2 separate regions of the Homo sapiens genome follow, and region 1 is linked to region 2. The links come from fine-mapping of genetic effects on gene expression. Tissue or cell type: sigmoid colon. Region 2 holds a variant in brackets; the other region holds the start of a gene. All regions are shown on one strand. Distances are from middle to middle. Region 1 holds the start of PJA2 (praja ring finger ubiquitin ligase 2). Region 2 overlaps PJA2 (praja ring finger ubiquitin ligase 2).

Region 1 (4,398 bases), 29 kb after region 2:
TATGAAGAAAAAAAAGAAAAACTATAAAAATTTCCCTAACAGTATAAAACAAGATGTGAATAAAATGGAGAGGCCACATTTCTGAGGAGAGAGACTCAATACTATAAAGATCAGTTGTCTCCAAATTAATCTAAAATTTCAATATAACCTTATTCAAAATAGCTAAGGATTTTTAGTTCAGTCTAAAGTTTACCTAGAAGAAGAAATGCATAAGAAACATTCAAGAATATTTTCAACAAGAGTAATAAAGAGGGAGAAAGGGTTACCAAAATTTAAAATATGCATAATCTTTTAACTGAGCAACTTCACTTCTAGGAACCCATGCTCCAGAAATAATCACACATAGAGGAAGTTTACTGAATTGTTAACAGTGGCTGACAATCAAGATGCAAGCAGGACTAGAAGTGGAAGCGGTAATTTTTACCTTACATTCTTCCATACTGTTTAATTTTTTAAAATCAAGGATGAATTAAAATTTGTAATTAAACATCGATCAATAAATTAGAAAGTTATTTTCATTATAAATCATCATTTGTAATAGCAAAAAGAAACTGCAATTAAATGTCTTTCAAAAAGGGAATAGAATAAATTATAGCCCATTCAAACTCACGAGATACCAGTTAGCCTTTTAAAAAGTATTAGGGAGACCTATATGTAAAAAGTAAAAATGTCCAACATATGTAATTAAGTCAATAAGCAAGCGGTATGCAAACATGTTTGGTATATGGTATAGCCTCCCTCAAAAAAAAAAACTTTACGTGTACTTGTATGTGTCTAGAAGTGCATTTGCAAGATTTTGAAAAATGAACACTAAACTGTCAACTTTACACTGGAGTGGGACTGGGGGATGAAAAGAAATATTTAAATTTTACCTAACAGTCCGTTATTTATATTGTTGAAGTGTACATCAAACTTGCATGTCTGCAATGAATTTTTAAAATTAAGTGGTCATCTCATATAAAAATGACATGAACCCCAAAAGACAATTACAACACTGAAAAATACAGTTTAAACGTTTATTACTGTTATCCTCAGGTTTATTCACATACACTTCAAATGATCCGTAGCCTTCAGCAAAGGTGACTGCCATTTTAAAGAAATGTGACCAAATATTTCATGATAAAACAGAATACATTAAGCCTGCAATGAAAATTTTAAACTTCACAGAACCAGCAGACTCAAAAGAAGCGCCTATGCGGATGTAAATTTTTTTTTTTTTAATGTCCGGAGAAGGAACTCTCAGATTACTCTCCTCCCTGCAAAACGACTATTTACCACCTCCCCTTTGCTTCAACTTGGTCTGAGCGTCTTTAACCTCACCATTTTGAATGTGCGCAAAATGATTACCAGTCATCTGAGGGAGGCCAAATTAAAGGTGCATCTGCAAGAGGAGCTCTGGCCTGACATCGCTAACTGAGAGCAGCCCTGGCGGAAAGGTGCTGATCCCGGGAGTAGAGCGACTGCTGCGGCTCGAGCGGGGTGTCTGCGTGCCGAGCCTCACTGACAATCGGGGAAAATGCAGACGCCCAGCAAAACGACGGCAACAGAAGGCTCCTCGGGGGAGGGGTGCTGCAGGCCTGTGGCGTAAGATGGTTCCGCTCTACGCGGGGTGACGGGAAACCGCAGAAGGTGGGTGTGAGGTGTTGGTTGGGGGGCAAACTCTTGTACAGTGGCGAGTGTAGGGGAAAGCCAGCGGGCTCCTTGGCCAAGTCACCAAGGACAGCAGAAGAGGCAGCAGTAAAGAGCGGCAGCGAAGACCCCGATACCAACCAATGTCATCTGTCGGGGGGCGGCGGGCGCGACCGTCCCGGATAGGAGCGCGGCCCGGGTCCGGGCTGGACAGGGCCCAGGAGGCGAAGAAGGCCTCCCACAGCCATCAACCCCACCCACCATGGCCGGCGCAGCAGGCCAGGGACAAGCCCCGCTCCTTCCGAAGCTAGAGACAGAGAAACTGAGGAGCTGAACGCAGCAATTTCCTCGCCCCGACCCCCACACTCCCGACAGCGGAACAAGCCAGACTGAAAAAAAAAAAAAAAAACCCTCACCGAAATGTGCAGCGGCTCCGGAGCGAGAACAGCGCTCGAACCTCCACCCGCCACCACCGCCTTCTTCTCCGCCTCCAACTCCTCCCCCGCCGAACGCGAAGCGGCTGGCGGCTGTGGCGGCGGCGGCGGCGGTGGCGGCGGCGGAAGCAGAGGCGGTGGCGGTGAGTCCCGCCCCTTGCGCCGCGGTGGAGGCGAAGGAGGAGAGTACGCAAGCCCCTCCCCCATAGCAGAGATGACCAGTCAGCTTACAGGGTCTCTGCTGGGGGACAATGCATACGCCCAATCAGAACCTGAGGAGTGGGCTCACGTCAATGGTTGGGACGTGGCAGAAAAAGGGAAAAATACTTGGACCTTCTCTACAGCCTGCTCCCCCATCTCCCTCAGGGGGAGTTCACCAATTGGCTGAAGAGCGGAAAGACGAAGCCGACTCAGTCCCCCGCCCCAGCCGAGCCCACCTCCTTTCCCTGCAGTACTGCGACGTTTGGGGAGGGGGCGGAGCACCGTGTAGGAGCTAAAACTGCGCGGCCTTTTGTGGTTTGGGCTGAGAGAAAAGGGCGGGGTCTCGGAAAGGGAAGGGGGTGTGGAGAACTAACAGAAAGACTGGCGCAGTTAGGCTTTTTCGGAAATTCCAACAGCAACAACCAAAATGGAGGCATTAAAATCGATCCTGATTCGACTGGAAACCTGATTAACAAGGTTAAGGTCTCCTGGCATAAAGTTCAGTTACAATGCAGATATCGGTGAGACAAAAAAAAAAAATGACACGAAGAAAGGCTTGTTTACCCACCCTGACCCTGGGCACTATATGGCGCTTTCCACCCTCCCTCTCCGCGCTGACCCTTGCCCCTCGCTTCTTATTCTGCTGGGGCGGGGTTCAGAGGAGGCCTGCCTTTCCTCTGTATAGCCTTGGGCTGACCACAGCCTCCCAGCTTGCATCTTGAGGCTGTTTGTCAAGCCGGGAAGTAACAGCTCCCATCACATGCAACCAAAATAAATACAACAGCTGCAGTCCCCGGACACCTTGCTTAATTTAAACCTGGGTAACAGTTTAGTTAATTATGTCAGTGATACAAAACTGTTTCTTCGTTCCGCACATATTCCCTTTATTCATCTTGAAACGTGTCCGCTTATCTGATTACAGTCCCTCTGTCTTCTCTTATTCCCCACCCCCGACCCGTCGCCTGATGCCCAGGATATATTCATCGCCACCCCTCCCCCGCGAATTAAGAGCCCCACTTCTTGTGCTGTCCCCTTAACAACAGCGAACTCTCTTGCCAGTGAACTGAGACTAATTTTTTTTTGCTGTTGATGGAAATAAATTACCCAAAATTTACTGTAGAAATTTAGGTTTATGAGAATTTGCCAGACATTTTGTGAAATCCAATCTGAATCCCAGCCCACTCCTGTAGTACGTTTCTTACCAAAAAACCATTCCTTGCTTGATATTACTCTGCCTTCACACGTGTTGCTATAGGAGTTCTGACTTTAACCATCCAAGTACCTCTTTGAAAAAAAACAAAATTCATATTTTAATTACATTTCCCTAGTTTCCCTTTAGGGTGTTCCAGATTGGCCCAACTGGATACATTAACCTGTTCTAGAAGGCAGGGATTCCCAAATTTCAACCTTTTTCATACTGTATCTGTGTATACTACTCACTGTCCTTTTTTCTTTAAATAAATGTATATTTTCTTTAATTTCTTTAAGAAGGAGACTTTATAAAAGTACTATAAATGGAAAACTAGCATCACCTATTATAAGTTGAAAGTAACTGTAAGAAAAATGAATGCAAAACAATGTTTTTAAATTGTGGCTAGAAACTGTTGTCCACTAAAGGCTCTAAGTCTAAAGACAACTGTCTTTGTTAAAAGGGCAAGCTACCAAGCATTAGACACACATTAAAGATACAGCACTCAAATGGTATTTTTATCATGATGTCATCAAAGGATAGAAAAAATAGAGCCGGAATAGCAATCACTTTCTCACTATATGAGTCATTGTTTTTAATCCTGCATGCGTGTCCCAACTACAGTTAACCAAGGCATCATAAGTGATCTATGTTACTATGAGAAACACTGGTATGGAGGCTGAAAAAGCCTGTACTCTAGAATCAAGCAGACATATTCACATACTGGCTCCTGCATTTGTAGCCGTGTGCCTCTGGGCAATCTACTTTGTTCTCTGACCTCGATTTCCAGTTTATTATAAATATGGGAAAGTAATAATACCAATTCATGAGTTGTATAGATTAAATAACCTAATCAATGTAAAGCATATCATACCTACAATGAAGTACTAAATACATATTAGCTTATGTATTGTATTACTATATAGAGATAATAGTATGTATTAT
Region 2 (4,398 bases):
CACTGGGTAAAGAAGAATCAACTTGATCCAAAGGACTGGAACCTTCATAAAAAACAAAAGAAAACATATTTTAAAGGATTAACTTAGATAAAATTTTATGTAATAACTATCACTTAAGTGGAAATCATACCAATTATTACTACTTGAATACATGAGTAAATTTATTTACCAAGCACTTCTATGCTCCTTAACTGAGAATGCAGACTGATTACTCTATGAGTTCATTTATGTCAATGTACAGCCTTTCACTATCATCTCCCTCACATGGCTTTGGCAGTTTTCTATCTAAATCCTAATATCTAATGCCTTCTGCAAGACATATAAAGGAGAAGCTCTTGAGAGGTTATACAATGGGAAGCCTCTCGTAAGTGGAGTCTAGGGTAACCAATCTGCTTCCCAGTGATTTCCAAACTTACCTTCTTTATTATATGCAGGTAAAAACAACAACAAAACAAAAAACCTTCAAAAGTACTTATGACAGATATAATAACTATAGTTACAGATTTAAGAGAAATTAGACCCTATTGTGTTTTGTTGGCAATTCACAAAATTATATCTCAGTATCTCGACAGATTATAAATTGAATTGTTGTAATACATTTGTAATAAGTTTACTTTAGATGTGTTATAGTTATGACTGAAAAACAACAAAGAGATCAATATGTTGATTCTTGTCATAATTGTGAGAATTCTGAAACATGAGTAAAATCATATCTATAAATTACTTTAAGCATAACTATCTTGCATCACCACTAATAAAAAAAATGAAGACATTTGAGATTTGCTGGAATAAAAATTCATGAATTGTAAAATAACTGAAGTTCGGCCATGATATATGGTACGAAGGGTTCTTTGATATATGGTACGAAGGGTTCTTTTTTTTTTTTTTTTTTTTTTTTTGAGACGGAGTCTTGCTCTGTGGCCCAGGCTGGAGTGCAGTGGCATGATCTCGGCTCACTGCAAGCTCCGCCTCCCAGGTTCACACCATTCTCCTGCCTCAGCCTCCCAAGTAGCTGGGAACGAAGGGTTCTTCAATGGGATGACCCTAGCTAGTAATTCAGATTCTTACATATGACAGCAAAAATAATCTAGAAATGTCTTGTCAAGTTTGCTTAGAACAAGAGGAAGAAGACAAATCCAGTCCAAAAATGTGCAATTATGGTACATGGATAGCTGCAAAATACTTTTTCAAAACCATTGAATAACTAAGAAATTTTAATTGAATAAGCCTTCCTTGTCCTTTGGATTTTGTAAAATGATGAAAAAATAAACAAGCCAAGTTAAATTTAGGATAAAATTAAAAGAAGAAAAGTTGGCCGGGCACAATGGCCCATGTCTGTAATCCCAGCACTTTGGGAGGCTGAGTTGGACGGACCACTTGAGGTCAGGAGTTCGAGACCAGCCTGGGCAACATGGCAAAACCCCATCTCTACCAAAAAATACAAAAATTAGGCGTGGAGGCGCATGCCTGTAGTCCCAGCTACTTGGGAGGCTGAGGCAGGAGAACCACTTGAACCCAGGAGGTGGAGGCTGCAGGGAGCCCAGATCACGTCACTGCACACCAGCCTGGATGACAAAGTAAGATTCCATCTCAAAAAAAAAAAAAAAAAAAGAACGCCAGGCATGGTGACTCACACCTGTAATCCCAGCACTTTGGGAAGCCAGCCAAGACAGGTGGATCACTTGAGAGGTCAGGAGTTTGAGATCAGCCTGGCCAACGTGGTGAAACCCTGTCTCTACTAAAAATACAAAAATTAGCTGGGTGCAGTGACAAACACCTGTAATCCCAGCTACTAAGGAGGCTGAGGCACAAGAATTGTTTGAACCTGGGAGATGGAGGTTGCAGTCAGCCAAGATGCACTACTGCAGTCCATCCTGGGCAACAGAACGTGACTCCATCTCAAAAAAAAAAAAAGAAGAAGAAGAAAAGTTATTTAAATATTATATGCAGGGAAAAAATATCTCTACTTGATCCACATTTTTAAAAATTTCAAAATATATCTTTTTGATTCAAAGATGATTTCCTTTGGCTGGAGGTTATGACAACGTAATCACTACTATGAGAGTGTGGTTATATTTTAATGATTGGCTGTATTCTATTTTCTTCTACAATGTTTAAATATATACACCATTAATATTAAATTCAATAAGAATTTCAAAATAGAATTTCTTGATAGGAAGTGTGCTGCATTTACACTCACAGACATGCATAATACCCACCCAAAAATTTAATTATAAGATCAATTCCTATATAACTATTAATAACCTTTAAATAATTAAATGTTACACACCTGAGGAATTTTCCTTTGGAACATCATCTAGTTCCAACACTTCATAGTCATCACCAGCCCGACCTAAGCTTCTTTCATGTCTGGTCATACATGGTTTAAAACTGACATAAGCATGTCTTCTTCC[A/G]TATCTCCTGCCTGTAATTGTCTGATACCCTCCTGCTGGTTTGGGCCAGACAGCCTTACCAGATTCTTGGTCCATTGCTGAAAAAAAAGTTAAAAAATTAAAACAGGAACAGCAATGAGCTTTATTCTTGCAACCTGTTGGGGAAAACTACTTCAGTTTATATTTTATTATTTATCAAATCATATGCTTCTGAACATGAAGTGTACCTTACTAGTACTATAAAACATTATTCTTCACACACTAGAAAATTAAATATGAAGTACTATATAATAAGAGTTAGTGGCCTTTTCCCTTCAAAAAATATGTTTTAAAATTTGGTTTCTTTAAGGTATTTCAGATTTTTATAATGAAACCTATCAAAAAATATTTTTCATATGCCAAATTATTATACTGCCAAAGCTCTTTATGGGAGATCTTCCAAATTAAGTACCTTATATATTATATTAATATAAGTGCTCAATACATATTTGATGAATCAATTACTAGCATTATGATATGATGGTTTCAATTACTTTAAGAATGAAAACATTTATGTCAAAGATAACAAGTAACCTCTTTAAATGGTATCTGTACCATGAAGAATCAACTAGATCACAATAAATATGTTCCAAAGATTAACGTCAGATAAAACTATCCAAAAGAAAACAGCAATGAGCCAGGTCAAACACATACTACCCTGCCTTCAAAACTACCAATAAATGGTATATGTTATGGTAAGAAAAGCCATCAACATTTACATGACTTGACAATTAAGTTTTGTTGACTGAGGGGTATACAGTAGTAAACAGCAGCAACTTTCACTAAGTAGTACATTATTATACACACACATATATATATTAAGTGTAAGTCTGCTTAGTCAATTATACATTACATGTACTACACAGCAACTAAACAAAATATTTTCTCACAGCATATGGTATAGTCAATAAATGCAACAGTTGCTGGGCATGGTGGCTCATGCCTGTAATCCCGGTACTTTGGGAGGATGAGGCAGTCGGATCACTTGAGGCCAGGAGTTCGAGATCAGCCTAGCCAACATGGCGAAACCCCGTCTCTACTAAAAATACAAAAATTAGCCAGACGTGGTGGCACATGCCCATAATTCCAGCTACTCAGGAAGCTGAGGCATGAGAATCACTTGAACCCAGGAGGCGGAGGTTGCAGTGAGCCAAGACTGTGCCACTGCACTCCAGCTTGGGTGACAGTTCGAAACTCCATCTCAAAAAAAAAAAAAAAATGAATAAATGAATGAATGAAACAGTTACATAATTTCTTAGTTGTATTAAAATAAGAAATATAATCACTTCCAAGAAGGAAACAGAAACAAACATGTATTTATAATACACGCACATATCGAGTATAAATAATATCAAGTGTTACACTTATTTAATCCCATCAGTAATCTTGAGGTGGATATTGTATTCTATTTTAAAAATTGAAAAATTAAAGTTAAAATTAAGTGTTGGATAACTTGTCTAATAATCCAAAAGTATGACTCCAGAACCAATGCCCTTAACAATTCTACCAAAAGAATAGTCTCCGAAGTGGAAAGCATAAAGCTTTCCAAGCTAAATGGGTATGGAAAGAAAATACCAGAATTTCTATTTTTACCTATCAAAAATTAGAAACTAAGCTTTACAAATATTCAATATATGGATCAAAACCAGCCTTTTAGTAAGACCACAGGTCAGATGATCATATGTCACTTACTGGTACTCAAGGTACCCAGAGGAAAAAACAAGAAGTACTCAATGTAGAAGAACTGACTTTCCTTACCTGCTGGCTCCTTTTCAGTGTACTGTGACATATATGGCAGCGTCTGTGTGACCAGTTCAGTAGAATTATAGATGTGATTTAGTTTTTATTCACACTATGGACAAGCCGCAGAAGATTCCTACAAAGAAACAATGAATTGAACAATATATTAATAAAAGCACAAAAATAGCAAAACTGATACTTCTGCTCCTCCTAGTGAAGTCTTATA

The links. PIP is the estimated chance that this variant, and not a neighbour inherited with it, causes the effect.
Region 1: PJA2 starts here. The variant in region 2 is fine-mapped to the expression of PJA2 in sigmoid colon (GTEx, PIP above 0.99). The same link has a PIP of 0.9 or more in thyroid, tibial nerve and visceral fat.

The regions. Positions count from the first base shown.
Region 1 is chr5:109,407,797-109,412,194 of GRCh38, forward strand. PJA2 (praja ring finger ubiquitin ligase 2) reads right to left here and starts at 2,178. Exons shown (of 10, transcript NM_014819.5): 1 at 2,046-2,178. RefSeq lists enhancers at 1,263-1,362, 1,403-1,522, 2,633-2,812 and a silencer at 2,043-2,122.
Region 2 is chr5:109,379,213-109,383,610 of GRCh38, forward strand. PJA2 (praja ring finger ubiquitin ligase 2) reads right to left here. Exons shown (of 10, transcript NM_014819.5): 2 at 4,191-4,308; 3 at 2,291-2,491; 4 at 1-42. The coding sequence starts at 4,221. Among named protein-coding and RNA genes, the nearest start is that of PJA2, 29 kb to the right of the region's middle. The variant A/G (reference allele first, on the strand shown) is at 2,415.